3 separate regions of the Homo sapiens genome follow, and regions 1 and 2 are each linked to region 3. Evidence: fine-mapped expression QTL. A gene starts in region 3. Each other region holds a variant in brackets. All regions are shown on one strand. Distances are between the middles of the regions.

Evidence for each region.
Region 1: its variant is fine-mapped to the expression of CIITA in whole blood (TOPMed, PIP 0.95).
Region 2: its variant is fine-mapped to the expression of CIITA in whole blood (INTERVAL, PIP 0.97).

Annotation. Positions count from the first base shown.
Region 1 is chr16:10,920,951-10,931,510 of GRCh38, forward strand. It overlaps CIITA (class II major histocompatibility complex transactivator), which reads left to right. Exons shown (of 20, transcript NM_000246.4): 17 at 1,217-1,300; 18 at 1,457-1,540; 19 at 2,278-2,375; 20 at 2,928-10,560. The coding sequence ends at 2,353. It overlaps DEXI (Dexi homolog), which reads right to left. Exons shown (of 2, transcript NM_014015.4): 2 at 7,941-8,609. Among named protein-coding and RNA genes, the nearest start is that of DEXI, 16 kb to the right of the region's middle. RefSeq lists an enhancer at 9,673-9,722. The variant G/A (reference allele first, on the strand shown) is at 3,816.
Region 2 is chr16:10,906,513-10,914,512 of GRCh38, forward strand. CIITA (class II major histocompatibility complex transactivator) reads left to right here. Exons shown (of 20, transcript NM_000246.4): 11 at 1-1,637; 12 at 2,517-2,675; 13 at 3,676-3,747. Among named protein-coding and RNA genes, the nearest start is that of DEXI, 32 kb to the right of the region's middle. RefSeq lists an enhancer at 5,896-5,945. The variant C/CA (reference allele first, on the strand shown) is at 4,520.
Region 3 is chr16:10,874,029-10,882,028 of GRCh38, forward strand. It overlaps CIITA (class II major histocompatibility complex transactivator), which reads left to right and starts at 3,174. Exons shown (of 20, transcript NM_000246.4): 1 at 3,174-3,354. The coding sequence starts at 3,303. RefSeq lists enhancers at 2,788-2,867, 3,198-3,267, 3,308-3,387, 3,428-3,477, 4,898-4,947 and 2 more.

The sequences.
Region 1 (10,560 bases), 48 kb after region 3:
CTCCGCCTCCCGAGTTCAAGCAATTCTCCTGCCTCAGCCTCTCAAGTAGCTGGGAGTATAGGCATGTGCCATCACACCCGGCTAATTTTGTATTTTTAGTAGAGACGGGGTTTCTCCATGTTGGTCAGGCTGGTCTCAAACTCCCGACCTTAGGTGATCCACCCGCCTCGGCCTCCAAAGTGTTAGGATTACAGGCGTGAGCCACTGCACCTGCTGCTTTTATATGCAGCCCTGCAAGGGAGTTCTGAGGCTGAATCATGGCAAAGTCATGGCCCTGAAATCATACCCGCAGCAGCACCTGACCTGTTAAAAGGCTGCTTGGTGTCGAGTAAACAGCTGAAGTTGGCATCAGTGACACTCATCATGCTATTTTCACTGCTACTAATGCTGGTTGTGAATATGCTGCAGAAACTGGAGCTGGTCCAGTGACTGGCTTTTTCTCTTCCTGCCCCCAGTGCTGGTCACACCCTCTATGTTAACTCATGCGACCCTCACCAATGTTCCTGTGATGTAGTCAGAACCATAGCTAACATTTAGTTCATTCTAGGCACCAAGGCATGTTCTAAATGTTATATCAGCATTGATTCATTTACTCCTCCCCACAATGACTCTATCATGCCCATTTTACAGATGGGCAAACTGAGTCTCAGAAGAGTTGAGTAGCTTGCCCAAGGTCACATAGGCAGTAAGAGGCATAGCTGGGATTTGAACTTGGGAAGTTGTTCTGACAGTTTCCACACAGTAAGGCAAGAAATGACTTCCTTTTAGTCCTGCTGTTTTCCTGGGCTCACTGTTTGACCACAGAGAAGTGGTCTCAACTCTCTGGGTCTTGGTTTGCCTGTCTTTAAAATGGGGCAGTAATCCCAGTAGGTGGTGACTCCCACGGGGCTGACCTCCAGGCTGCAGGGGACACTGAGATCCTAGAAGCAATCACCACAGCCCTGAACAAGAGAACTAGTGGGACCTGGGGACAGAAACTTTGAGCAAGTCACTTATTCATTCCTAGCCTCTATTTTCATATCTAGAAAATGGGAACCATCCCAATGGCCTATGTAAGTACTTGGCACAATGCCAGGCTCTGTTGTGCAATAAATATTGATTCCTTCCCCCAGGGATAGTGGGACCAGGCTTTTTCTGGAATCTAGGGATGGTGGCTTCTGGAAGGCTGACCATGCACAGGCCTCCAATCCCTCCCCCTGGCCTCTGTTTCCGACAGCTTGTACAATAACTGCATCTGCGACGTGGGAGCCGAGAGCTTGGCTCGTGTGCTTCCGGACATGGTGTCCCTCCGGGTGATGGAGTGAGTGTGGGAGTCTGGGCGGTGGGTGGCTCAGCCCGGGGTGGGAGACACTGAAGTCTCTCCCTGGTGTCCTGGAAGAGCTGGATGTGGGGGTGGCCTTGGTCTGGAGCTGGGGAGTCCCAAGGGCCAGGCCCCAAGGTGAGTTTCTCTTGCCAGCGTCCAGTACAACAAGTTCACGGCTGCCGGGGCCCAGCAGCTCGCTGCCAGCCTTCGGAGGTGTCCTCATGTGGAGACGCTGGCGTAAGTCCAGGCAACCCTGGTGGGTGGAGAACAACTCACTCCCCAGGCGTGTGGCCCAGTGTGACCCCGGAGCTCAAATCATGCTCTTCCCTTCACCAATCTGCAACCCTGGGTGAGCAGACACTTCCCCCTCTGGCTTCAGCTTCTTCATCTGTAAAGTGGGGACAGTAATAATATCCACCCAAGAGGTTTTGTGAGGCTTAAACTAATCAAGCCCTACAAAGCTCTTATAACAACAGTAGCTGGCACACAAAAATGCCAATAAATGCTATATTAGGCTGAACCATATGAAATTGCTGACATCCACCCATTTTTGACCTGTAAAATTGGCAATTTCATATGGTTCAGGTTTATCTTTTATTAAGTCACCATGATGTCCAATACTGGTTACTTTATATTCTTTCAAAGCACTTTTATCTCCACAATCACTCACCTCTTCTAAGACGCACAGGGTGGGTCTTACAAGACCCATTTTACAGATGAGGAAAATAAAGCACAGAGCAGTTAACTAACCTTTCTGGGGTCACACAGCAAGTCAGCTGCAGAACCATAAAGGAATCTCGGGCCTCCTAGGCTTCTCCTTTTCCCCATGACCCACACCGGTCGGTATCTTGCCAGGGGAAAAGTCCCCAACGTTCTAGGCTGGGTGGAAGGAGGGATTTGGGGGCAGCTGTCACTGGGGCCCCAGGCCGCCCTCTCTCCTCTAACCTGGCTCTGAGTCCCATCCCCCCTTGCAGGATGTGGACGCCCACCATCCCATTCAGTGTCCAGGAACACCTGCAACAACAGGATTCACGGATCAGCCTGAGATGATCCCAGCTGTGCTCTGGACAGGGTAACCAGGGTGGGCTTGGGAGGGGAGAGCCGCAGTGGGTTGGGGGCAGTGTCCTTGTGAAGGTGGCATTCAAAAAATGTGGGCGGGACACAGGTGGGGCTAGGCCACCACCCTTGGACGCATGCGTCATCAGAGACATCCCCTCATCTCCACCCTGGGCTCGGTGGAGCTGTCCTCCAGGCTTTGCGAGCTTGGTCCCTGTGGTCAGGCTTAGAGATCAGGGGACAGGAAAGTTGGCCATCCACATCCCACAGCCTCAGTGCTTGGAAGAGCTTCCTTTGGGGACTCCAAGCCTTCCCAGCTGCTGTTTCGGCTTGGTGGCTGCCCTGATGCTCCGGGTTTGTCTCAGATGAACTTGCTTGACAAGTCTCCTGCTCCTCACTATGAAGATCACTGTCCCCCAGCCCTGTGCTCCCCGCACTGTGCTGCACGTCCACCTCCATTCCACTGCCCCTCCCATCCCCCCATCTTGATAGCACCCTTCCCAGGTGTCAAGCTGCCCCTCCTAGAGTGTCCTGCCTAAACCCCCTCTCCTGGCTCCTCCCGCTACAGCATGTTCTCTGAGGACACTAACCACGCTGGACCTTGAACTGGGTACTTGTGGACACAGCTCTTCTCCAGGCTGTATCCCATGAGCCTCAGCATCCTGGCACCCGGCCCCTGCTGGTTCAGGGTTGGCCCCTGCCCGGCTGCGGAATGAACCACATCTTGCTCTGCTGACAGACACAGGCCCGGCTCCAGGCTCCTTTAGCGCCCAGTTGGGTGGATGCCTGGTGGCAGCTGCGGTCCACCCAGGAGCCCCGAGGCCTTCTCTGAAGGACATTGCGGACAGCCACGGCCAGGCCAGAGGGAGTGACAGAGGCAGCCCCATTCTGCCTGCCCAGGCCCCTGCCACCCTGGGGAGAAAGTACTTCTTTTTTTTTATTTTTAGACAGAGTCTCACTGTTGCCCAGGCTGGCGTGCAGTGGTGCGATCTGGGTTCACTGCAACCTCCGCCTCTTGGGTTCAAGCGATTCTTCTGCTTCAGCCTCCCGAGTAGCTGGGACTACAGGCACCCACCATCATGTCTGGCTAATTTTTCATTTTTAGTAGAGACAGGGTTTTGCCATGTTGGCCAGGCTGGTCTCAAACTCTTGACCTCAGGTGATCCACCCACCTCAGCCTCCCAAAGTGCTGGGATTACAAGCGTGAGCCACTGCACCGGGCCACAGAGAAAGTACTTCTCCACCCTGCTCTCCGACCAGACACCTTGACAGGGCACACCGGGCACTCAGAAGACACTGATGGGCAACCCCCAGCCTGCTAATTCCCCAGATTGCAACAGGCTGGGCTTCAGTGGCAGCTGCTTTTGTCTATGGGACTCAATGCACTGACATTGTTGGCCAAAGCCAAAGCTAGGCCTGGCCAGATGCACCAGCCCTTAGCAGGGAAACAGCTAAT[G/A]GGACACTAATGGGGCGGTGAGAGGGGAACAGACTGGAAGCACAGCTTCATTTCCTGTGTCTTTTTTCACTACATTATAAATGTCTCTTTAATGTCACAGGCAGGTCCAGGGTTTGAGTTCATACCCTGTTACCATTTTGGGGTACCCACTGCTCTGGTTATCTAATATGTAACAAGCCACCCCAAATCATAGTGGCTTAAAACAACACTCACATTTATTCTGCTCACATATCTGTCATTTGAGCAGGGCTCAGCGGGGACAGCTCCTTCTGTCCTACTCTGTGTCAGGTGGGGCAGCTTGAGGGTTGGGCTGGTGTCACCTGAAGACTCATTCTTCTGTACGTCTGACAGGCAATGCTGGCTGTTGGCTGGGGGCCTCAGTGCCACTACGGAATAGTTGGCTAGGACCCCTCCATGTGGGCTAGTTGGGCTTCCTCATAGTATGGTGGCTGGGTTGGAGGGTGTCCCAAAAAGAAAGGAGGGGATAGAGAGAGACCACTTTTCATAACCTAGCCTTAGAAGTCACACAGTATTACTTCTGCTACATATATATGTTTTAAGAGGCAGGGTCTCACTCTGTCGCCCAGTCTGGAATGCAGTGGTATGATCACGGCTCACTGCAGCCTCAACCTCCTGGGCTAAGTGATCCTCCCACCTCAGCCTCCCGAATAGCTGGGACTACAGGTGTGAGTCACCAAGCCCAGTTAATCTTTAGTTTTATTTTTGTAGAGCCAGGGTCTCACTATGTTGCCCAGGCAGGTCTTGAACTCCTGGCCTCAAGTGATTCTCCTGCCTCAGCCTCCCAAAGTGCTGGGATTACAGGTGTGAACCACCACACCCAGCCCACTTCTGCCATATTCTGTTGGCCAGTGTGACAAGGATTGCTACTGTCCTACCCACCCTCCTTTCACCACATGTGCACATGCACGTGTGTGCACGTACACACACATACACACACACGCGTGCACACACCAGAGCCCACCTTGGCTCAAGTCCTCTTTTCTGAGAGGACTTTTCTTTGTGGCTTCCTAAAATTCAGTGGAAAATTAATTGTTTGGGGATGAGAAAGGTTGAAGCACCAAAAGCTTACCAAGGGGAATGTTTGCCTCTGCCTCTGACACACAGCTCTGTCCTGGGAGTGAGCTGGTTTTTAGCGGAGACGGAGTCCCACCTTGGCTGCAGGGAGTCCGAAAGGGACTTGGAAGCTCCGCTTTCTACCCAGCGAGCTGCCGGCACGACTGTTGCTTTTCACTCGGGCATAGTCTGCTCAGAAGCCCCAATTCAAGACATCTTAGCTTACTCCTGGTGGCAGTGGGAGCTGCCTGTTCAGCTCCAGCTCACCAGCCCCAGTGCCCACAGGATCAGTCTGATTCCCAAGCTCTGCTCCTCTCCCCAGCAAGTGAGAGCTGGGTGTCAAGAGGGTCTGAGGAATCCAGACCCGGCTGCGTGGTTGATGATCTTTGCAGACAGGCAAGCACCTCCTGCCTCGAACTGGCTGCAAAGGGTATCAGGTGCTGCCATCCAGGTTCAGCTTGTAAATAGCTCAGGTGTCACCCTGCAAGGGATCCCTGCACTTGCAGACTCTACAGAGGCCATGGGCCTCCTGTGTGTGCGCCTACAGGAGTGAGCACTAAGGTGTGCTCTGATCATCCACTGTGCCATGTGCCAGGTTTTTGGTCTGACCCACTGCTTTTGGTCTGTGTGATGATGAAATGAGGTCAGAGCCTGCAGTTATTAACACTAACGATTTGTTAATGATAGCTACTGTTTATTATTTTATTTAATTTTTTTGAGACAGAGTTTTCACTCTTATTGCCCACGCTGGAGTGCAGTGGCATGATCTCGGCTCACTGCAACCTCTGCCTCCTGGGTTCAAGCAATTCTCCCACCTCAGCCTCCCAAGTAGCTGGGATTACAGGCATGCACCACCACGCCTGGCTAATTTTTGTATTTTTAGTAGAGATGGAGTTTCACCATGTTGGCCAGGCTGGTAATCTGCCTGCCTTGGCCTCCCAAAGTGCTGGGATTACAGGGGTGAGCCACCGCACCCGGCCACTACTGTTTATTTAATGAGCAGATACATGCAAAGCCCTTATCACAGTGCAAGGGAAATTCAAAGCGCTCAGAAAGTATTAGCTCAATAAGTGATGACTGTGTGCCAGACACTGTGCTAAACTCCTACTCAAGAGGGATAAGAGTCTAGGGGCAAGTGGCAGAGACTCTAGAACGAGATTGCCTGGGCTCAACGCCCACCTCACCACTTACTTATGCAAGCTAGTTCTCTGTGCCTCAGTCTCCTCATTTGTAAAATGGGCATAACCACAGCACCTTCTTTATAGGATTATGTGAAGGTGTGGTGAGCTAATACGTTAAGAATTGGAGCTCAATAACATGTTGGCTGTCATTATTACATATATCTGTGTTTCATTCTTGCCTCTGGCTGGAATGTTCTTCCCAGCTCTCCATATGGCTGATTTCTCATCCTTCGGGACTTGCCCCATTCTCCAACCCCATCACTAGTTTTATCTTTTTCACTTATTTATGCAGTCTGCTCTTGTCCTAGGACATGAGCTCCAGGAGGGCGGGAAACATCTCGCTTTGTACACTGCTGTGCCCTCTGTACCCAGCAAGGCGCCTGTGTATAATAGGTGCTCAATAACATAAAATGAACAAATAATCCTCACCTAACGGTTTCATTCATTCTGCAAATACATACTGACAGCACAGTCATGAATAAGATGTTCCTGCCCTGGTGAGTCTTATATTTTAGCAAATTAAAAAAACTCTTTGGACAGGGCTGCCAGGTGAGGTTGGCCAGTCTGTACACTGCACAAAGGCACCTGGGACAAGGGGGAACATGGGGGCTGCAAACCAGTCTGGGTTCTGCTTGCCAAACTGGGAGTCCTGGTGTGGAGCCTTTTAACCCAGAGGGGCATCTTTTCGTAGTTAACGCACAGTCATCGTAAGATGTGGATAAATTACTGTCTCCGTGTCACAGATCTAAGTGATACTTATAGTCACACTCCTATAAAGGAATGGACTTCTGACTTCTTTGGAGGACCTCTCTGCAGGGACAGGCACAGTGTGCCGGAAGTGCCCCTGAACCCCATTTGTCAGGTGGTAAAGCGCTGCTCGGAGGAATCAGGGCATGATAGTGCAATTCCATGTCCAGTGGATTGTAAGTCCACGCACCTTCCAAATGGTCACTCTTCCTCGCAGGCCTCTCTCTGCATACAAATGTCTCCCTCCTGACGCTCACCTTTTTCCCTGGGGCTCTCAAATGTCTTCTTTTCAGATTTCGTAGCTTTTCTTTCTTTAGCATCACTTGAGGGCAAGTGGTGCTCCAACTGTCTCCCCCCAGAGTTCTGCCGCCTGTACTCTCCCACACCTCAGTCTCCTCGCCTGTAGAAAGGGGTCAATCGTTTGAACCCTGCTTCACTTGGTGTGTATGTGAAGGTGCTTTGAAATCAAGTGCTCTGCAAACTGGAGAGAATTACTGCTTGTATTCCGTGAAACTACAAGCTCCCAATTCCACTCATTTAATCCCTCTCTTGCTCTGTTGCCCAGGCTGGAATGCAGTGGCATGATCTCAACTCACTGCAACCTCTGCCTCCCTGGTTTCAAGCAATTCTCCTGCCTCAGCCTCCCGAGTAGCTGGGACTATAAGTGTGCGCCACTATGCCTGGCTAATTTTTTTGTATTTTTAGTAGAGATGGGGTTTCACCGTGGTGGCCAGGCTGGTCTCGAACTCCTAACCTCAAGTGATCTGCCCGCCTCGGCCTTCCAAAGTGCTGGGATTACAGGCATGAGCCACCATGCCAAGCCCTTCCCCCCTATCTTTAATGAAGGTCTACCATGTGCCTGACACAGGGGATACCCACCCCCACTTCTATGGGATTCAGGCCTGGTTTCCAGCTTGGCCTTCAGGCTTTTCCCACCACACCCCAAATGCTGTCCCTGGCTTGTGGAGTGGGGCAGGGGGCCAGCCTGGGACTTTCACGCCAGCCCGACTGGGGCAGACTCTCTCAACCCCACTGGATCTTCTGCTGTTTGTCAGCCACAAGGTTCTGCCTAGAACTCCTTTCCCGAATCTCAAAGTTAAAAAAAAAGGCAGGGCCCCAGGGGTTGGAGTTGCATACATTTTTTTTTAATCCAAAGAAGTAAGCCTCCTAAGTATTGCTTAGACAGGTTTATCAGAATTAAGTAGGCACAACACTCATACTTTCAGAAAAGCATTTCCAGCCAGGGGAGTAACGTGGCACTCACCAGCATGATGTCTGTTTTGCCAACTTGCTGAAGAACGAGTAACCTGAAATGAAGGAGCGAGAATCCCACCCTCAGCCCCCCAACAGCTTCCTCAGCTTCTTTTTCTTCTGAGTCACCCCTGAAACAGTCGCTGCATCTAAGACCAGCCTCGGGCTAAACCCAGCTGGCCTGAAGGCTCAACTCACATCAAACGGAGCTGGGAGTCGCTTTTGCGTGTGTCCGCAGTTTGAAGTGTCCTCTCCGAAGGTGAAGTGGGGGAAGCAGGTGCGCTCCGGGATGAAGTGCAGGGAGGCAAACTCTGGCTGGGTTCCTGTAAACATCCATCGCAGCTGCAAATAATCAGAAGCCAAGGCCAGGCCATCGATTTGACACTGCAGGCAGATGAGGTCTTGGGATGCCTCTTGCGTTCCCCCTTCTGTGGGAGCAGGTGCCTTCCCAACCTCAGCACTCAGTCCCAATCTCTCTTCCACTCTCCTGGGTTCAAACAGGAACCTCTCTGTTGGCACGAAGCTTTTGAGGGGAGCAGGTCTAACAAGAAGGAAAAAGGGGGGTTATTAGCACGGAAGCCCCACCCTGCCACCAGGTTGGCTGGGGACAGGGACCAATCCACCAGGCTCGGGAGGCTTGGGGTGGGGCAGGGAAGTCTTCCTCCATCCCTCAAATTTAGGGAACCACTGGGAGCCCCAGACTCAGGCTGAAAATGTCTTTCTGCAAATATAAAACTCTTTTTAATGAATTTGCCTAATTTCTCAGAGACCCTGGGCTGGAGAACCAGTGCAATGTCACACGGGAGAGGAAGGACTGTCCTGTTTATTGGGAGGGAGGAGGGGGATGCTGGTGCAGCCTGCTCAGGAGTCACCCAGGGTCTGAGGGCTGACTTGCAGCTCTGGGCCAGCTGAGCCAGCGCTGGGTAGTGGGCAGGGCTTGGCAACACCTTCCACCTTGCCCGGAAAAATGCTTTGCAACCTACAGGAAGGCAATAGCCACAGCCAAGTTACTCAGCAGCCCCACTTGGCTCTTTCTCCCAGGATGCAGCATCATCTCCATGGCCTGGCCCCCTGGCACGTCCCCGTTTCCCACTGCCTTCTCTGTGTGCCTAGCCGGGTGCCAGTGTCTCTGTAGCACCTCGTGTTCCCATGCCCAACCCCTCTGCAGCCCCCTCAAGCCCTGCTCTGATTCCAAGCCTCATCTCCCAGCTCACTATCCTTTCCGCAAACTTCACTGAACATCTCGCAGAACTTGTATGTTAAACATGTGACATGTATTGTTGTTTGACAGGGTGCTATTGACATTTGGGGTAGGACAATTCTTGGAGGTGGGGTGGCTGTTCTGGGCACTGAGCATTTAGCAGCATCTCTGGCTCCAGGCCACTAAATGCCAGTAGCACCCCTGGCCACTGGAACAACTAAAAATGCCCTCCTACCCTATTTCCAAGGTCGACCTAAGGGGGCGGAACTGTTTCCATTGAGACCCATGCATCGTATAGGATAAGAAACTGAGGTTCTTATCATTTAATAGGATAAGAAATTGAGGTTCAGAGAAGCCAAGTAACCTGCCTAAAGATGCACAGCTATGAGAGGCAAAGCTGGCACTGGCTTGGTAATAACGATGGAAACGGTCTGAATGAGAGCAGGTACCATTTCCTGAGCTCTTAGCAGACGCTGAGGACCCTGCTAAGTGCCATGAGACCTTAGCAGAGGCTGTGGGTGCCCCGCCCCATTCCCTCCACTCACTCTTCCTTGCAGGTCGACCTGCCCTTCTTTGCTGAGGCCTTTCTCTGCCTCCAGAGCCTGCTTGGTCCTCAGGCTGTAAGTGCAGGCAGAGCTAATGTCTCTCCATAGCTGCCCTCCACCAGCCTGCTCCTGAGACACCTGCTGGCCAGCAGCCTGAAGCAGAATCCTTTACTCAGATTCAGCCGCACAGATGCTCACTGCAGAGATCTCCAAGGCCTGTGGTCATCCTTGAGCCCATCTCAGATTTGTGTGGATAGGGTGTTAGAGAACATGGAATCAGCTGGATAGAGTGGTTCATGCTTGTAATCCCAGCACTTTGGGAGGCTGGGGTGGGAGGATCACTTGAGGCCAGGAGTTTGAGACCAGCCTGGGCAACACAGTGAGACTGTCTCTATAAAAAATTTAAAAATTAGCCAGGCATAGTGTAGTCTCAGCTACTTGGAAGGCTGAGGCAGGAGGATTGCGTGAGCCCAGCAGTTCAAGGCTGCAGTGAACTATGACTGTGCCCCTGCACCCAGCCTGGGTGACAGAGACCCTGTCTCAAAAAAAAGAGAAGATGGAATCACTCGGTGAGGACCTCACTCCTCTCCCAGTCCTGTGACCACAAACCGCATCCCCGACAGTCCCAGCCAGGCGCTAGTCTGGCTGTAGCTGCCCTCTTGTGTGCAGATCTCCAGTCTGAATGGGCTACACGTGGAATTTACTAACACTCCGGTTTTCATTGTGTTTATCTGTAGGGTTACCTT
Region 2 (8,000 bases), 32 kb after region 3:
TTCTACCGCTCACTGCAGGACACGTATGGTGCCGAGCCCGCAGGCCCGGATGGCATCCTAGTGGAGGTGGATCTGGTGCAGGCCAGGCTGGAGAGGAGCAGCAGCAAGAGCCTGGAGCGGGAACTGGCCACCCCGGACTGGGCAGAACGGCAGCTGGCCCAAGGAGGCCTGGCTGAGGTGCTGTTGGCTGCCAAGGAGCACCGGCGGCCGCGTGAGACACGAGTGATTGCTGTGCTGGGCAAAGCTGGTCAGGGCAAGAGCTATTGGGCTGGGGCAGTGAGCCGGGCCTGGGCTTGTGGCCGGCTTCCCCAGTACGACTTTGTCTTCTCTGTCCCCTGCCATTGCTTGAACCGTCCGGGGGATGCCTATGGCCTGCAGGATCTGCTCTTCTCCCTGGGCCCACAGCCACTCGTGGCGGCCGATGAGGTTTTCAGCCACATCTTGAAGAGACCTGACCGCGTTCTGCTCATCCTAGACGGCTTCGAGGAGCTGGAAGCGCAAGATGGCTTCCTGCACAGCACGTGCGGACCGGCACCGGCGGAGCCCTGCTCCCTCCGGGGGCTGCTGGCCGGCCTTTTCCAGAAGAAGCTGCTCCGAGGTTGCACCCTCCTCCTCACAGCCCGGCCCCGGGGCCGCCTGGTCCAGAGCCTGAGCAAGGCCGACGCCCTATTTGAGCTGTCCGGCTTCTCCATGGAGCAGGCCCAGGCATACGTGATGCGCTACTTTGAGAGCTCAGGGATGACAGAGCACCAAGACAGAGCCCTGACGCTCCTCCGGGACCGGCCACTTCTTCTCAGTCACAGCCACAGCCCTACTTTGTGCCGGGCAGTGTGCCAGCTCTCAGAGGCCCTGCTGGAGCTTGGGGAGGACGCCAAGCTGCCCTCCACGCTCACGGGACTCTATGTCGGCCTGCTGGGCCGTGCAGCCCTCGACAGCCCCCCCGGGGCCCTGGCAGAGCTGGCCAAGCTGGCCTGGGAGCTGGGCCGCAGACATCAAAGTACCCTACAGGAGGACCAGTTCCCATCCGCAGACGTGAGGACCTGGGCGATGGCCAAAGGCTTAGTCCAACACCCACCGCGGGCCGCAGAGTCCGAGCTGGCCTTCCCCAGCTTCCTCCTGCAATGCTTCCTGGGGGCCCTGTGGCTGGCTCTGAGTGGCGAAATCAAGGACAAGGAGCTCCCGCAGTACCTAGCATTGACCCCAAGGAAGAAGAGGCCCTATGACAACTGGCTGGAGGGCGTGCCACGCTTTCTGGCTGGGCTGATCTTCCAGCCTCCCGCCCGCTGCCTGGGAGCCCTACTCGGGCCATCGGCGGCTGCCTCGGTGGACAGGAAGCAGAAGGTGCTTGCGAGGTACCTGAAGCGGCTGCAGCCGGGGACACTGCGGGCGCGGCAGCTGCTGGAGCTGCTGCACTGCGCCCACGAGGCCGAGGAGGCTGGAATTTGGCAGCACGTGGTACAGGAGCTCCCCGGCCGCCTCTCTTTTCTGGGCACCCGCCTCACGCCTCCTGATGCACATGTACTGGGCAAGGCCTTGGAGGCGGCGGGCCAAGACTTCTCCCTGGACCTCCGCAGCACTGGCATTTGCCCCTCTGGATTGGGGAGCCTCGTGGGACTCAGCTGTGTCACCCGTTTCAGGTGGGGTGAGGGGCTTGGGGAAGAGACATCCTTGTGTTGGGCATTAACTGCGGTCTTGGTGCCAAGCCCAGTGCTCTGTGGGGTCTCTTTTAGTATGCAGAGCAGCCGGGTGGGGCAGAATGGATTCTCTCCATTTTTAAGATGAGGATGTTGAGGCTCAGAGAGGGGCAGCCACTTGCCACACAGCAAGTGAGAGGCAATGGCATTCTCCCAGTCAATATTTGAAGGCCCGCCATGTGCCAGTCACTGGGGTATGTCTAGAATCTGAGACTGACCTGGGCTCAAATTTGTTTTATTCTTTCCACCCCCTGAGCACGCCACCGTTTTCTTATGCTAAGAGTAAAGCCATGGCCTCCCCTTGGACTCTCTGCCTCCATTCTCTCCTCTTCCACTCCATTTTGTATTCAGCAACCAGACCAATCTTCTCAGAACTTGAATCTGATTGTATCCCATCCCTGCTTACAATCCTTCAGGGACACTCCACCACTGTCAGGATGAAGGCTAAATTCCTTAATTTGGTTTCATTAAGTCGGTCTGCAATCTGCTTGAGCATTTCAGCTTAATCGCCAGAGGATTGCTTCCATATTTCCCCCTAAACATACTTTACCCAAGCTGTAAGGTCCTACATAATTGTGCCAATAATTTAGCAGTGAGCTTCCTGGTAGCCGAAGCAAAAAGGGAAAGAAAACCACTGTGTGAGTTGTGAGAAAGTAGGAATCAATAAAGGCTGGAGTGGTCATGGAAGGCTTTCTGGGAAAGGTAGAGGTTGAGCTAAGGAAAGAAAGTATTTTAATAGGTAGGAGGACCCTTCATGGAGCTGCCCTTCCATTAAGGTCTAGCCTGGTCACCGTGCCTGGGTCTGAGGCCCTCCCTCCACAGGGCTGCCTTGAGCGACACGGTGGCGCTGTGGGAGTCCCTGCAGCAGCATGGGGAGACCAAGCTACTTCAGGCAGCAGAGGAGAAGTTCACCATCGAGCCTTTCAAAGCCAAGTCCCTGAAGGATGTGGAAGACCTGGGAAAGCTTGTGCAGACTCAGAGGTGAGAGGAGAGGCGGATGGGAGGTGGTTCACGCCATGCAGGTTGAGGACATGTAGGACCCATTCTCAAGTTTGTCATGGGCATTTCCAGTGCCCCCTGTCCTCTGGGACACCCCATGCCCTCTTTCTGGGCAATGGCTAACCAGAGTCTCTCACTGCACTCGCTGCCCAGGCGGAGCCTCTAGAATTGAAAACTTTGCTGCATTCAAAACCTGCCATCATGTGCCCAAGTCTTAGCTAAAGCCATGGAGAACCTCTCCCCTTCTAGGAGTTAACAAGGATGCCTTGTGCACCTAGTAACAGAAGTGACACCTACTGCCACCCTTTGAGGCATTTAGGACAACTGTTGTCCCAAATTTATAGACGGCAGAGCTAAGGTCCAGAAGGCAGACAAAACTTGATTACAGAACAAGTTAACTGTCTTTCATTCATTCCTTCATCACACATTGTTTGAGCGCCTCTTAAGTGCTGTCTGGGATAGGTACTGGTAAGTGCCTAATCTGAGGCTCATTTCCATGAAAGATACAGTCCTGAGATCTTTTATTTTTATTTTTATTATTTCTTAAAGACAGGGTCTCGCTGTGTCTACCAGGCTAGAATACAGTAGTGCGATCATAGCTTACTGTAGCTTCGGAACTCCTGAGCTCAAGCGATCCTCCTGCCTCAGCCTCCCAAGTAGCTGGGATTATAGGTGCACGTCATCACACCGGATGATTTTTTAAGTTTTTGTAGACACAGGGATCTTGCTATGTTGCCCAGGCTGGTCTTGAACTCCTGGCCTCAAGCAATCCTCCTGCCTCAGCCTCCCAAAGTGCTGGGACTACAGTCACGAGGCACCGCACCCAGACAGATCTTTTTTTTTAAGAGGGGGACAACAGTTGCCCCAAGGAAAGCAATCCCCCTGGGGAATTTGGGGCACTGGGGCAGCCATCATGGGACCCATGGGTAAGGGCTCAGTGACAGCAGTGCCTGCTCCCCCTAACATTGCCTGTTCTCTCCAGGACGAGAAGTTCCTCGGAAGACACAGCTGGGGAGCTCCCTGCTGTTCGGGACCTAAAGAAACTGGAGTTTGCGTAAGCAAAGGGGTGGATTGTCTTGTGGGTCTGCGCAAGGTTTCCCCTGCAGCATTAGCTGGGCTTGTACCACCTGAATGGAGATAGATCTCCAGAATCATTCTTACCCTCTTGCCCACCACTTTGGAAATAGCTTCCAGCAGCTGGAAAGTGACCAGTGTGGGCAAATGCTGGAGGTTCTCAGATTTGAAGCTAATGGACCCGTTTGCTGGTTAACATGGTCATTCCCATCACTCATTCAACAGAGGTATTGAGCACTTGAATGACTGAGGCTGCTGTCCTCATGAGCTGACAGTCTAATCAACTCCCCTCTGGAGGAGGTCAGGGGGACTTCCTGGAGGAGGTGATATCTGCACTGAAGCTTCAGTGAGGATAAGGAATGAGCTGAGTGGGGAGAGGGGAGTAAGAAAGGCTTTCCAGGAATTGTAATTTCGCCAGGGATCAGAAAAGGCCCAATGTGTCCCCAACCTTCCATAGGAGGATGCCACTATGACTATGGAGTCCTTTTCCCTCCTGTGGCCAGGAACTGCACAACGTCCCTTGTGCCTGAGCTTGTTTACTTCCACAGCCAAGGGATGGCCTCCCCAGGGAGAATCTTTCCCCCATTTTGAAATTCCCAGGAGCTTTTGATGTGCAGCTAGGATGAAAAAGCAACCCTACTTGCCTGGGACTATCCTGGTTTGAAAACTGAAAGTCTTGCATCCCAAGAAGCCCCTTAGTCCCAGGCAAACTGGGACAGTTGGTTGCTCTATGTGTGGCCAGGGCTGGGGGC[C/CA]ACACCCTAGGCAGTGTTGCTGGGGTGACAGAAATGGAGACCTAGGCAAGGCTCTAGGGAGTCCAGTTGTGTCTGGGTCACTGAGGAGGGGCAGCCCACCATACATGGGCCCCAAGAAAGCACAATAATTATTATATTTAGATCTGTCAGAATATAGCTTTTCTTTCTTTCTTTCCTTTCTTCTCTCTTTCTTTTTCTTTCTTTCTTCTTTCTTTCTTTCTCTCTTTCTTTCCTCTTTCTTTCCTTTCCCTTCCTTTTCTTTCCTTCCCTCCCTCCCTCCTTCCTTCCTTCCCTCCCTCCCTTCTTCCCCCTTTTCTTCTTTTTCTTTCTCTCTGTTTCTTTCTTTCTTTCTCTCTCTCTCTCCCTTCCTTCCTCCCTCCCTATCTCTCTCTTTCTTTCTTTCTTTCCTTCTTTTCTTTCTTTCCTTTCTCTCCTTTCTCTTTCTTTCTTTCCATTCTCTTTCTTTCTCTTTCCTTCCCTCCCTTCCTTCTCTTCCTTCCTTCTTTTTCCTTTCCTTTTCTTTCCTTTTCTTTTCTTTCTTGAGGCAGAGTCTTACTCTGTCCCTCAGGCTGGAGTTCAGTGGCACAATCACAGCTCACCACAGCCTCAACCTCCCTAGGCTCAAGTGATCCTCCCACCTCAGCCTCCCTAGTAGCTGGGACTACAGGCATGCCCCACCTGACTAATTTTTGTATTTTTTGTAGAGACAGGATTTCACCATGTTGCCCAGTCTGGTCTCGAGCTCCTGGGCTCAAGCAATCCTCCCACCTCAGCCTCCCAAAGTGCTAGGATTACAGGTGCGAGCTCCCGCACCTGGCCAGAACAGGCTTTTAAATTTGCAGCTCACCTTCCATCTCAATTATCTCAGGCCACCCTCCTCTACAGGCATTGTCATCATCTCCCCATTGTACAAATGGCAATGCTGAGAACAAGAGACTTTAAATTGTTTATCCAAAGTCATAAAGGTCAGGTCAGCCTGGCCCTAAGCTCCTTCCACAGAAAAAGCTAAATGAATGTTTGTTCCTTGGTAGGGGTCTAGATCATCTAATGATTAGGAAGGAGTTGTTATGCCTGTGGTATATTCGGTGCTGTTTTTTTTTGGAGATGGGGTCTTGCTCTGTCACCCAGGCTAGAATGCAGTGGTATGATCTTGGCTCACTGCAATCTCCACCTCTCGGTTCAAGCAATTTTCCTGCCTCAGCCTCCCGAGTAGCTGGGATTACAGGTGTACACCACTACACCTGGCTAATTTTTGTATTTTTAGTAGAGACGGGCTTTAACCATGTTGGCCAGGCTGGTCTTGAACTCCTGGCCTCAGATGTTCCTCCCACCTCAGCCTCCCAAAGTGCTGGGATTACAGGTGTAAGCCACCATGCCCAGCTTATAATTCAGTGCATTTTATATATAATCTCATTAATCTCAAGAGCTACTGTGGAAGACAGACAGTCATCATCTTCCCCATTTTACAGATGAGGAGACGGAGGCCTGGTGAGGTTAAGTGACTTGCCCGTGGTCCCCCAGCTGGTCACCCACAAGCTATCAGCTCTCCCTGATCACTGCTCCCCTGTGCCCCAGAAAAAAGCCAGTGTCTCTTGTTTTGAACAGAGACAAGGTGCTAAATTTGTCCAGAGGTAAAAATGATGCTGAAAAGGGGAAATGTCTGAAAACAATAACTGAGGGCCCTTTCTGGCCTTAAATTATTTTCAGCTGAAAAAGCCCCTAGTTCAAGATCGGAACTGCGCTCTGGGGAACAGCGGCCATGGGGTGGAACAGCCTAGAGCCGGGTGATCAGCCACCTGGAGACCGGAAGCCCCCGAGGAGGTTCTGAGGAAGGAAGGAAGGAAGGAAAAGACTATTTCTGGCATTTTCTCAGGCTTCTACTGTGCCCAGGCACCCTGTAGACCTCATCTGTCTGTCAAATCAGGGTTCTTAGCCACTCACAACCCTACAGGGACTTCGTTTGTACACAGAGTCCTTCCCCAGTTCAGTCCCCACTCACCTGTTCACCCTTATCTCCTACACTCGCTGGGTGCTCTCTCCATTCCAGCCACAGGGCCTCCTTGCTGGCTTTCAACCTCCTAGGCATGCTTCTGCCTCCAGGCCTTTGCACCGGCTGTGCCCTCTGCCTGGAATACTTCTCCCCAGATATCTGCATGGCTCATGCCTTCACCTCCTCTGGTCTTTACTCAGTGAGGCCTTTTCTTTTCTTTCTTTCCCTGTTTCTTTCTTTCTTTCTTTCCCTCCTTTCTTTCTTTCTTTCCCTTTCTTTCTTTCTTTTTCCTTTTTTCTTTTTCTTTTTTTGAGGTGGAGTCTCGCTCTGTCACCCAGGCTGGAGTGCAGTGGCACAATCTCGACTCACTGCAACCTCCTCCTCCCAAGTCCAAGTGATTCTCTTGCCTCAGCCTCCCGAGTAGCTGGGACTACAGGCACATGTCACCACATCTGGCTAATTTTTTGTATTTTTAGTAGAGACGGGGTTTCACCGTGTTAGCCAGGATGGTCTCAATCTTCTGACCTCGTGATCCCCCCACCTCGGCCTCCCAAAGTGCTGGGATTACAGGCGTGAGCCACCACACCCGGCCTCAGTGAGGTCTTTTCTGACCCTCACAGTTAAAAATAAAACTCTGGCCAGGCGCAGTGGCTTATGCCTGTAATCCCAGCACTTTGGGAGGCCGAGGCAGGTGGATCACAAGGCCAGGAGTTTGAGACCAGCCTGGCCAACATAGTGAAACCCCATCTCTACTAAATATACAAAACAAATTAGCTGGGCATGGTGGCAGGTGCCTGTAGTCACAGCTACTTGGGAGGCTGAGGCAGGAGAATCATTTGAAACCGGGAGGCGGAGGTTGCGGTGAGCTGAGATCACGCCACTGCAGTCCAGCTTGGATGACAGAGTGAGACCCCATCTCAAAAATAAATAAATAAATAAATAAATAGAACTCCATTCCCCTCATGGTTAAAAAAAAAACTCCATCCCCCTCACCACTGTATATTTCCATATGATTCATTGTCTCAGACATCAGCTTGCTTTCCGATTTCTTTGATTATCTGTCTATCTTCCCCCCTGGAATGTCAGCACCCAGAAGGCAGGGATTTTCGTCTGTTTGGCCCACAACTTTCCTCCCTGGGCCTGGCACATAGTAGGCAAGCGGTCAATATTTAACAACGAATGCCTTAATCCAAGAACCCCCATAAGATTGGGGTGAAATATTTGAGGAGATCAAGACTTAAGGGTGAAGGGATTTGCCAAGGCCTTTAGCAGGGAGCCAAATGCCAGATCCTGGAGTCAAACTCTGATCCTGTGGCCTTTTGCTGAGGCCAGTGTTCTCAGACTTCAGGATTTCAGAGGCCGAGAACATTTCGGAATGAATTCGAGTGACCGTGCGCGGTTACTGTTTTTTAATGTTTATCAAGGATGCTCATTCAAACAAACAAATAACAACAAAATACCCACTGCTGGCACCATAATTTTACCAAAGAA
Region 3 (8,000 bases):
GGAGTGCAGTGGTGTGATCTCGGCTCACTTGCAACCTCCACCTCCCCCAGGTTCAAGCAATTCTCCTGCCTCAGCCTCCCAAGTAACTGGGATTACAGGCGTGCACCACCACACCTGGATAATTTTTCTATTTTTAGTAGAGACAGGGTTTCACCATGTTGGCCAGGCTGGTTTCGAATTCCTGACCTCAGGTGATCCGCCCGCCTCAGTCTCCTAAAGTGTTGAGATTACAGGCGTGAGCCACCACGCCCGGCCTGCAGGAGTCTTTAAGAGGCAGGAACAAGGATGCAGGTGTTTCAACAGAGAGGAAGCCTGGGGTGGGCTTCATTCCTCCTCGTGCTCTTTGCCCCCATTCACTCAGTGCTAGAGGTTGTCATTCTGCCTCTGAGACATCCGGCCCCCTCCCTCTCCATCCCCACACCCTCACCTGCCACAGCTGAAATCCAGGTGTGCCTCAGCTCCTGGCTGGGTACCACTGCCACTCATCTGTAGACTCTCTACCCTGGTGCCTTCAGGTGCCAAAGTGCATCCTCTGCCATCAGTCAAACACACAGTTTGACGGATGTCACTTGCTCTGCTCAGAGACCTGCACCGACACAGGCATGGTCAGGTTCAGGTCTTGTGGACAAGAACTGGGTCTGGAGGAGTCAGGGAAGATGTAGATGAGGAAGGTGGTACTGAAACGAACCTCTGGTACAGGGAAGATGTACCAGGCAGCTGCAGTCACCCAGGTGAGAGATGGTAGTCCTGGCTGGCCCATTCTAAGTTCCAAAGCTGCCTTGGCCATCGGTCTGAGGGTGGGATGGGGGGACATCAGAACCAGCTGTCTCTGAGAACATAAAGGGACCCCCATATGGGACCTCAAGACAGCTGAGCAGTCAGAGGCGCCTCTCCCGTGGCACCAGGTCATAGGATAATGAGACTTCTTAGAATTTCTTTCTTTTTTTTTCTTTTTTTTGAGACTGAGTCTCACTCTGTCACCCACGCTTGAGTGCAGTGGCACTATCTAAGCTCACTGCAACCTCCACCTCCCGGGTTCATGTGATTCTCATCCCTCAGTCTCCCGAGTAGCACACGCACCATCACGCCCAGGCTAATTTTTGTATTTTTAGTAGAGAAAGGATTTTGCCACGTTGGCCAGGCTGGTCTTCAACTCCTGACCTCAAATGATCTGCCCACCTCAGCCTCCCAAAGGACTAGGATTACAGGCATGAGCCACTGTGCCTGGTCATTCTTAGAATTTCTGACATTCACCATATCCGTTTGTTAGCCCCACTAAGCAAGGCTGTTTCAAATTGACTCAGCATTTCTTATTTGTCAATTTCTACCCCACTCCTCACCCGGGGACTTCTGAAAACAGTGAAGGCTTCAAAGTAATCACCTTACAAAGAAGGGCATCATCCTCATTTCACACATGGGGAAACTGAGGACCACAGAGAGGAAGTAAAGAGGCCAAGGTCACACACCTGCTACTAAGTTCCCCGTCCAGTGCTCTTTCAGCAAAAATGCATGAGGCACACAAGTCATGTTTCCAAACCTTCATTTCAGTACCACCTTCATCATTTTTGTGTTTTCCACATAACACTTTACTATTATTTATGACAGGGTTTTTTTTAACCACTCACCTTTTTTACTTATCTTTCTTTTCTTTTTCTTTAGGAGAGGCAGGATCTCACTCTGTTGCCCAGGCTGGAGTGTATTTCATGATCATAGCTCACTGCAGCCTCCAACTCCTGGGCACACTCGATCCTCCCACTTCAGCCTCCAGAGTAGCTGGGACTATAGTTGTGCACCATCATACATGGCTAATTTTTAAAAAATCATTTGTAGAAAAATTAGCTGGATGTAGGAGAATGGCGTGAACCCAGGAGGCGGAGCTTGCAGTGAGCCAAGATAGCGCCACTGCAGTCCAGCCTGGGCGAAAGAGCGCGACTCCGTCTCAAAAAAAGAAAAAAAGAAAAGAAAAGAAAAATTAGCTGGACATAGTGGCAGGTGCCTGTAATCCCAGCTGCTCGGGAGGCTGAGGCAGGAGAATCAGTTGAACCCAGAACCCGGGAGGCGGAGGTTGCAGCGAGCCAAGATCATGCCATTGCACTCTAGCCTGGCAATAAGAGTGAAACTCCGTCTAAAAAAAAACAAAAACAAACAAAAAAAACCCCAACAATTTGTAGACATAGGGTGTCACTATGTTGCCCAGGCTAGCCTCCAACTCCCGGCTTCAAGCAATCCTCCTGCTTCGGCCTCCCAAAATGTTGGAATTACAGGCACAAGCCACCTGGCCCAGCCATCTACTTTATATTCAAATAAAACTTTACGTCCCATTATAAAGGGAAAAAATGGCAAAAACAGGAGGTAACCATTTAACAAGAAAGCAGAGTGATGTTAGATTATAGCAAGATACTGTTGACTGTAGAAGGCTCTGAGGCTAGAGAGCTGCTTTCTATAAAACAGAGTGATCATATATTAGAAGAGGTGTTAAAGACATGTTCACACCAAGCTGAGACTTCCTCCTTGATACCACCAGGAGGATGGGCAGAGACTGGAAAAGACACTAACTTTCTCCCTATGGGAGTCAGTATTATTTAGCATCACTTTGGCGGGTCACCCCAAACCATCTGACTACAAGGGTACCATATTTGGGTTAACACTCTTTTGGTATAATTTATGTTTTAGTCCAATGTCTTGGGATGAAAATGACAGGTGGGCCACTTATGATCTCCAGAGAAATTCAGGGCAATTTGGTGTGGGAGTAGGCATGGTAGAGGAGAGCAGCATCTAAGAAGTCCCCAGCAGAGGCTCTCAGCTTGTCTTGAGGCATCTGGGCGGAGGGCTATGATACTGGCCCCATCCTGCAGAAGGTGGCAGATATTGGCAGCTGGCACCAGTGCGGTTCCATTGTGATCATCATTTCTGAACGTCAGACTGTTGAAGGTTCCCCCAACAGACTTTCTGTGCAACTTTCTGTCTTCACCAAATTCAGTCCACAGTAAGGAAGTGAAATTAATTTCAGAGGTGTGGGGAGGGCTTAAGGGAGTGTGGTAAAATTAGAGGGTGTTCAGAAACAGAAATCTGACCGCTTGGGGCCACCTTGCAGGGAGAGTTTTTTTGATGATCCCTCACTTGTTTCTTTGCATGTTGGCTTAGCTTGGCGGGCTCCCAACTGGTGACTGGTTAGTGATGAGGCTAGTGATGAGGCTGTGTGCTTCTGAGCTGGGCATCCGAAGGCATCCTTGGGGAAGCTGAGGGCACGAGGAGGGGCTGCCAGACTCCGGGAGCTGCTGCCTGGCTGGGATTCCTACACAATGCGTTGCCTGGCTCCACGCCCTGCTGGGTCCTACCTGTCAGAGCCCCAAGGTAAAAAGGCCGGGAAAGCATCTTAATTTAGCGTGCAGTCTCAGCTGGTCCTGCCATTCCAGATAAACAGAGAAACCATTCTGAATTGGGGATGGGGGTGAGGATGGGAACAGGAGTCTGTGTCCTGCTGGGGCAGGCCATTGGAAGATGTGAAAGAGTTGTCTATTTCCTTCCACCGGAGGGAGACTTCAGGTCAGCCAGGTGTCTGGAGTATGAACCATGTATCAGCACCGAAAGGTTCTAGAAGTCAGACTTTCGGGCAGTGTGTCACTAACTCTCAGCATGCTGGCCTGGCTCGGCCCACAGCAAGGTCTTCTCGCCTCCCTTTGGGTAAATACTGAGGGGTGCCTCTGCAGGACGGGACCTCTGCCAGACTCCACTCCATACCCAGAGAAGCAGGGAAACCAAAATTGGAGTCAGCCTTGAGGTGTAGCTGTTGAGCCCTCAGCAGCTGGGGAGAGCTGGCGGATGCTGCCCTCCCCCCAGTTTCCTAATGGTGTTGTTTAAAAAGGGTCAGGGGACGGGGGAACAGATGGTGGGAAGAGCACAGTGCAGACACCTGGCACCGGCTCTGAAGGCAGCATGGCAGCTACACCGTTGGCTGGGAAGGGTGTGCCCCTGAAGAAGTCGTTTACATTCTCGAGTCAATTTTCCTGGAGTGTACAATGGACCTGTGGGAAAGCCTGTATGAAAGGGTAATGATGAGGGACCTAGCACAGTGTCCAATATTTTATAGGAACTGGAATTGAGCTCATAGGAGCTCAATTTTATTGGCATTGCTGTTGTTGGATGGTTAAAGGGGTGGTATCCCTTTTCTCAGACTCCCCTGAAATGTATGGTTTGCTTTGAACCCAGAGACTGATGACAGGTCTGCCGGTGTGGTTGGGTGCAGCCTTAAGTTGCTACGGGAAAGTGTTGGAGGGGGAGAAGTCAGAGGTAACCTTGCCCCCTCCCTCAATTCCAGATGAGGAAATTCAGGCCTGAAAAGGGAAAGTGACCACCTCAAAGTCTCATGCCTTGGAGGACCCAGCAGGAATCCAAGACCTCTGAAAAGGACCGGCAGGGCTCTTGCCACGGCTGGGGGTGTGGTCATGGTAACACAGGTTTTCCATCCATGGAAGGTACCTGAGGGATTTTCTCTTCCTCCCTAGGGCCAGCATCAGAGGAGTGAATAGCTCAGTTAGCTCATCTCAGGGGCCATGTGCCCTCGGAGGTGGTTTGCCACTTTCACGGTTGGACTGAGTTGGAGAGAAACAGAGACCCACCCAGGGGTGGGGACAAGCTCCCTGCAACTCAGGACTTGCAGATCACTTGCCCAAGTGGCTCCCTAGCTCCTGGCTCCTGGCCCGGGGCCTGGGACTCTCCCCGAAGTGGGGCTGGCCACTGTGAGGAACCGACTGGAGGCAGGGACCTCTTGGATGCCCCAGGCAGTTGGGATGCCACTTCTGATAAAGCACGTGGTGGCCACAGTAGGTGCTTGGTTGCTCCACAGCCTGGCCCGAGCTCAGCGCTGCAGAAAGAAAGTGAAAGGGAAAAAGAACTGCGGGGAGGCGGGGAGGTAGGATGACCAGCGGACGAGCTGCCACAGACTTGCCGCGGCCCCAGAGCTGGCGGGAGGGAGAGGCCACCAGCAGCGCGCGCGGGAGCCCGGGGAACAGCGGTAGGTGACCAAAGTCTCCTCTGTAACCCCTAAGGTCGGGCTGAGAATCGAGGCTCCGAGACTGTCAGCTACTTGCTCAAGGTCACACAGCAAGTCTGGGAGGATGGGGGGATGGAATATGCAAAATGTAGGGCCGGGAAACACCTCGTTTCCAGCATCCCCGCAACGACTCTGCGCGGGAACCAGGAGCCGGGAACCCGGAGCTTGGCTTGCTGTGCCCAGAGCTCCGGGGCCGTGGGCGGGTGGCAGGAAAGCCTGGCGGCAGCTTCTGCAGAGAAGCCGGAGCGCAGACTGGGAGCGCGGAGCAGACACACTCCCCCGGCCACCCTTGGCCGACTCCGCGCGCCCGGGATCCTGCAGAGGTGCGCGCCCTTCTTGTACGCCAGACTTTGGACCAGGGCCGCCGTTCCCTGAGCTTCACTTTCCCTGTTGGGTCATATTCCATCTCTAACTCTGGAATCTTGGGTATTGGGCTCTCCAGGCGGGGGGCCCTGCTCAGGGAGGCAGTAGGGAGCCAAACCTTTAACCAGAGGATGGGATAAGTCCTCAACTCTCGTTGAACATCTTGGCGAAGGTGTGTGTTGTTGGGAGGGGTGGGGGAGGGATCCCCCCGGACTGAACCGATCTCTTGATCTCTCACTTCTCTACCTCGCTTTGGGGCCCTGAGTCACACCCTCTAAGGAGAGAGGCTAAAGCGCCCCGGAAAGCCAGCGTGCGAATGCCGGGGTGGGAGTGGGAGATTGGATCTCCCTGGGGTCCAGGAAAGCCGGAATCGGAGCCACCATGCTTAGCTTAGTCTGGAACTCTTAAAAGCCGCGGTCCTCCTGAGTCCCACAGCCCCTCTCCACCCTAGGTGGCACAGGAGAGGTGGCAAAAGCCTAGAAGTTCAAGGCATGGCTCCCTCCCCAGCCGCAGCCTGGAGTGTCTAACTTTGGCAGGAAGTCTTCCGTTTCTGCTCCCCACTCCAGAGAAAAAATAAATAAATACTTCTCCGGAGTGAGATTAAGGAAACAGGTACTTCTTCCTCTTGGAGAAAGAGGAGCCAAAGGAACTTGACTCCAACAAATGATCACCTTGCAAACCCCCGGCTCCCTTAGGGGATGACCTGGTCTCCAACAATCTCAGAGCGTTTGGAGGCAGGGTCTTTGGAGATGACTGAGTGGGGAATCCCAGGCTCCCCACACATGAACATCACCTGGGATGATCAACCTGTTCAGGATGTAGGTTCCCGGGCTCACCCCCAGGCCCGGTTGGCTAGGCCTGGGGTGAGGCTGAGATCCTGCAGGTTAAACCATCTATCCCAGGTGACTCCAATGTTCGTTTGTGGGGCAAAAGTCCCTCAAGTCAGAGACACTGGGAGGCGCTGATGTGGTCTCATCTCTTTACTCTCTCCCTGTTACAAAACCTCTATCAGAAAAGGAGTACCAGGAGGTGTTTTGTTTTGTTTTGCTTAACGCCACATAGCAAGCAGTTTGCAGACGCAGGATTTGAACCCTGGTCTACTGAGAGCCCAGCCCAGTGCAGCAAGCAGATGTGAACCTCCACAAATGCAGGGCAGGTCCCAGGCAGTCAGAGAGAAACCTGTTGATACCCAGTCTGTCTGATGGCTGGGGCTTGGTTTCATGTCCTAAGACCCAGCCTCAGATACCTTGAGAAGAGCAGAATCAGAAATTAACCCAAGGAAACTCTGGATTAGTTCCAGGCAATCAGGGAAGTGGCTGGAGGGAGGTAGGAAACTTCTGGACTTAGCCTCAGATTTGCCTTGAGTCACACTGACAAGTGACTTCCCCTCTCTGAGGTTCATCTGTAAAATGGATAAAACATGAGAGCTTGCTTGATGATGTCTGATGTGTACAGAAAAAGCACTTTAGAAAACCACCAAAGAATATTCATGCATTGGGAATAATTATTATAGATCCTAAAGGGATTGTTTAGAAAGATCAGAGAGGGGCCGGGAGCAGTGGTTCACACCTGTAATCCTAGCACTTTGGGAGGCCGAGGCGGGTGGATTGCTTGAGGCCAGGAGTTCAAGACCAGCCTGGGCAACCTGGAGAAACCCCAACTCTACTAAAACACTTTTTTGTGTTTTAGCCGGGCATGGTGGTGCACACCTGTAATCTCAACTACTTGGGAGGCTGAGGCACGAGAATCACTTGAACCCAAGAGGCGGAGTTTACCCGAGAGGTGGAGGTTACCCGAGAGCTGAGATTGCACCACTGCACGCCAGCCTGGGCAACAGAGCAAGACTGTCTCAGGAAAAAAAAAAGAGAGAGAAAAAAGTCAGAGAGGAAAGCATAGGCAGATGGGAGGTTTCCAAAGACCAAGACACACACAGTCAAAAGACAGTTCAGAAAGGGGCATTAGTTACCACCGATTCTCATAGGAAGGACATAGATAGTTTTCAGATTCCTTCAATCCTTCTGACATCAAGGACAAAGTCTCTGATTTTCCCTGATGTTTGACAGTGCCCTAATGCTTGCTAAGATTTCTTTTTAACAAAGTGGTAAAGAAGCTGAGATTATTTTAGTAACATTGTTTCTTTTTCAACCACAAGTGATACTGTTGGTTTGGTTTTGCTTTTCCGTTTATACATGGAAAAAAAAGTTTTCTTTTTGTAAAATCATGGTAAAATACATATAACATAAAATTTACCATTTTAACCACTTTCAAATGTACATTTCAGTGGCATTAAATATTTCAAACTGTTGTGCAACCTCCGCTACCATCCATCTCCAGAACTTTTTCATCCTCCCAAACTGAAACTCTACCCAATAAGCAATAACTCCCCACTGCCCCTTCCACCCAGCTCGTGGTAACTCCAACTTCCTGTCTCTATGTTTTGGGCTACTCTAGACACCGCCTATAAATAGAATTACGTGATATTTGTCTTTTTGTGCCTGGCTTCTTTCACTTAGCATAATGTCTTCCAGGTTCATCCATGTCGTGCCATGTGTAATTCCTTTCTATGGCGGAATAGTATTCTAAT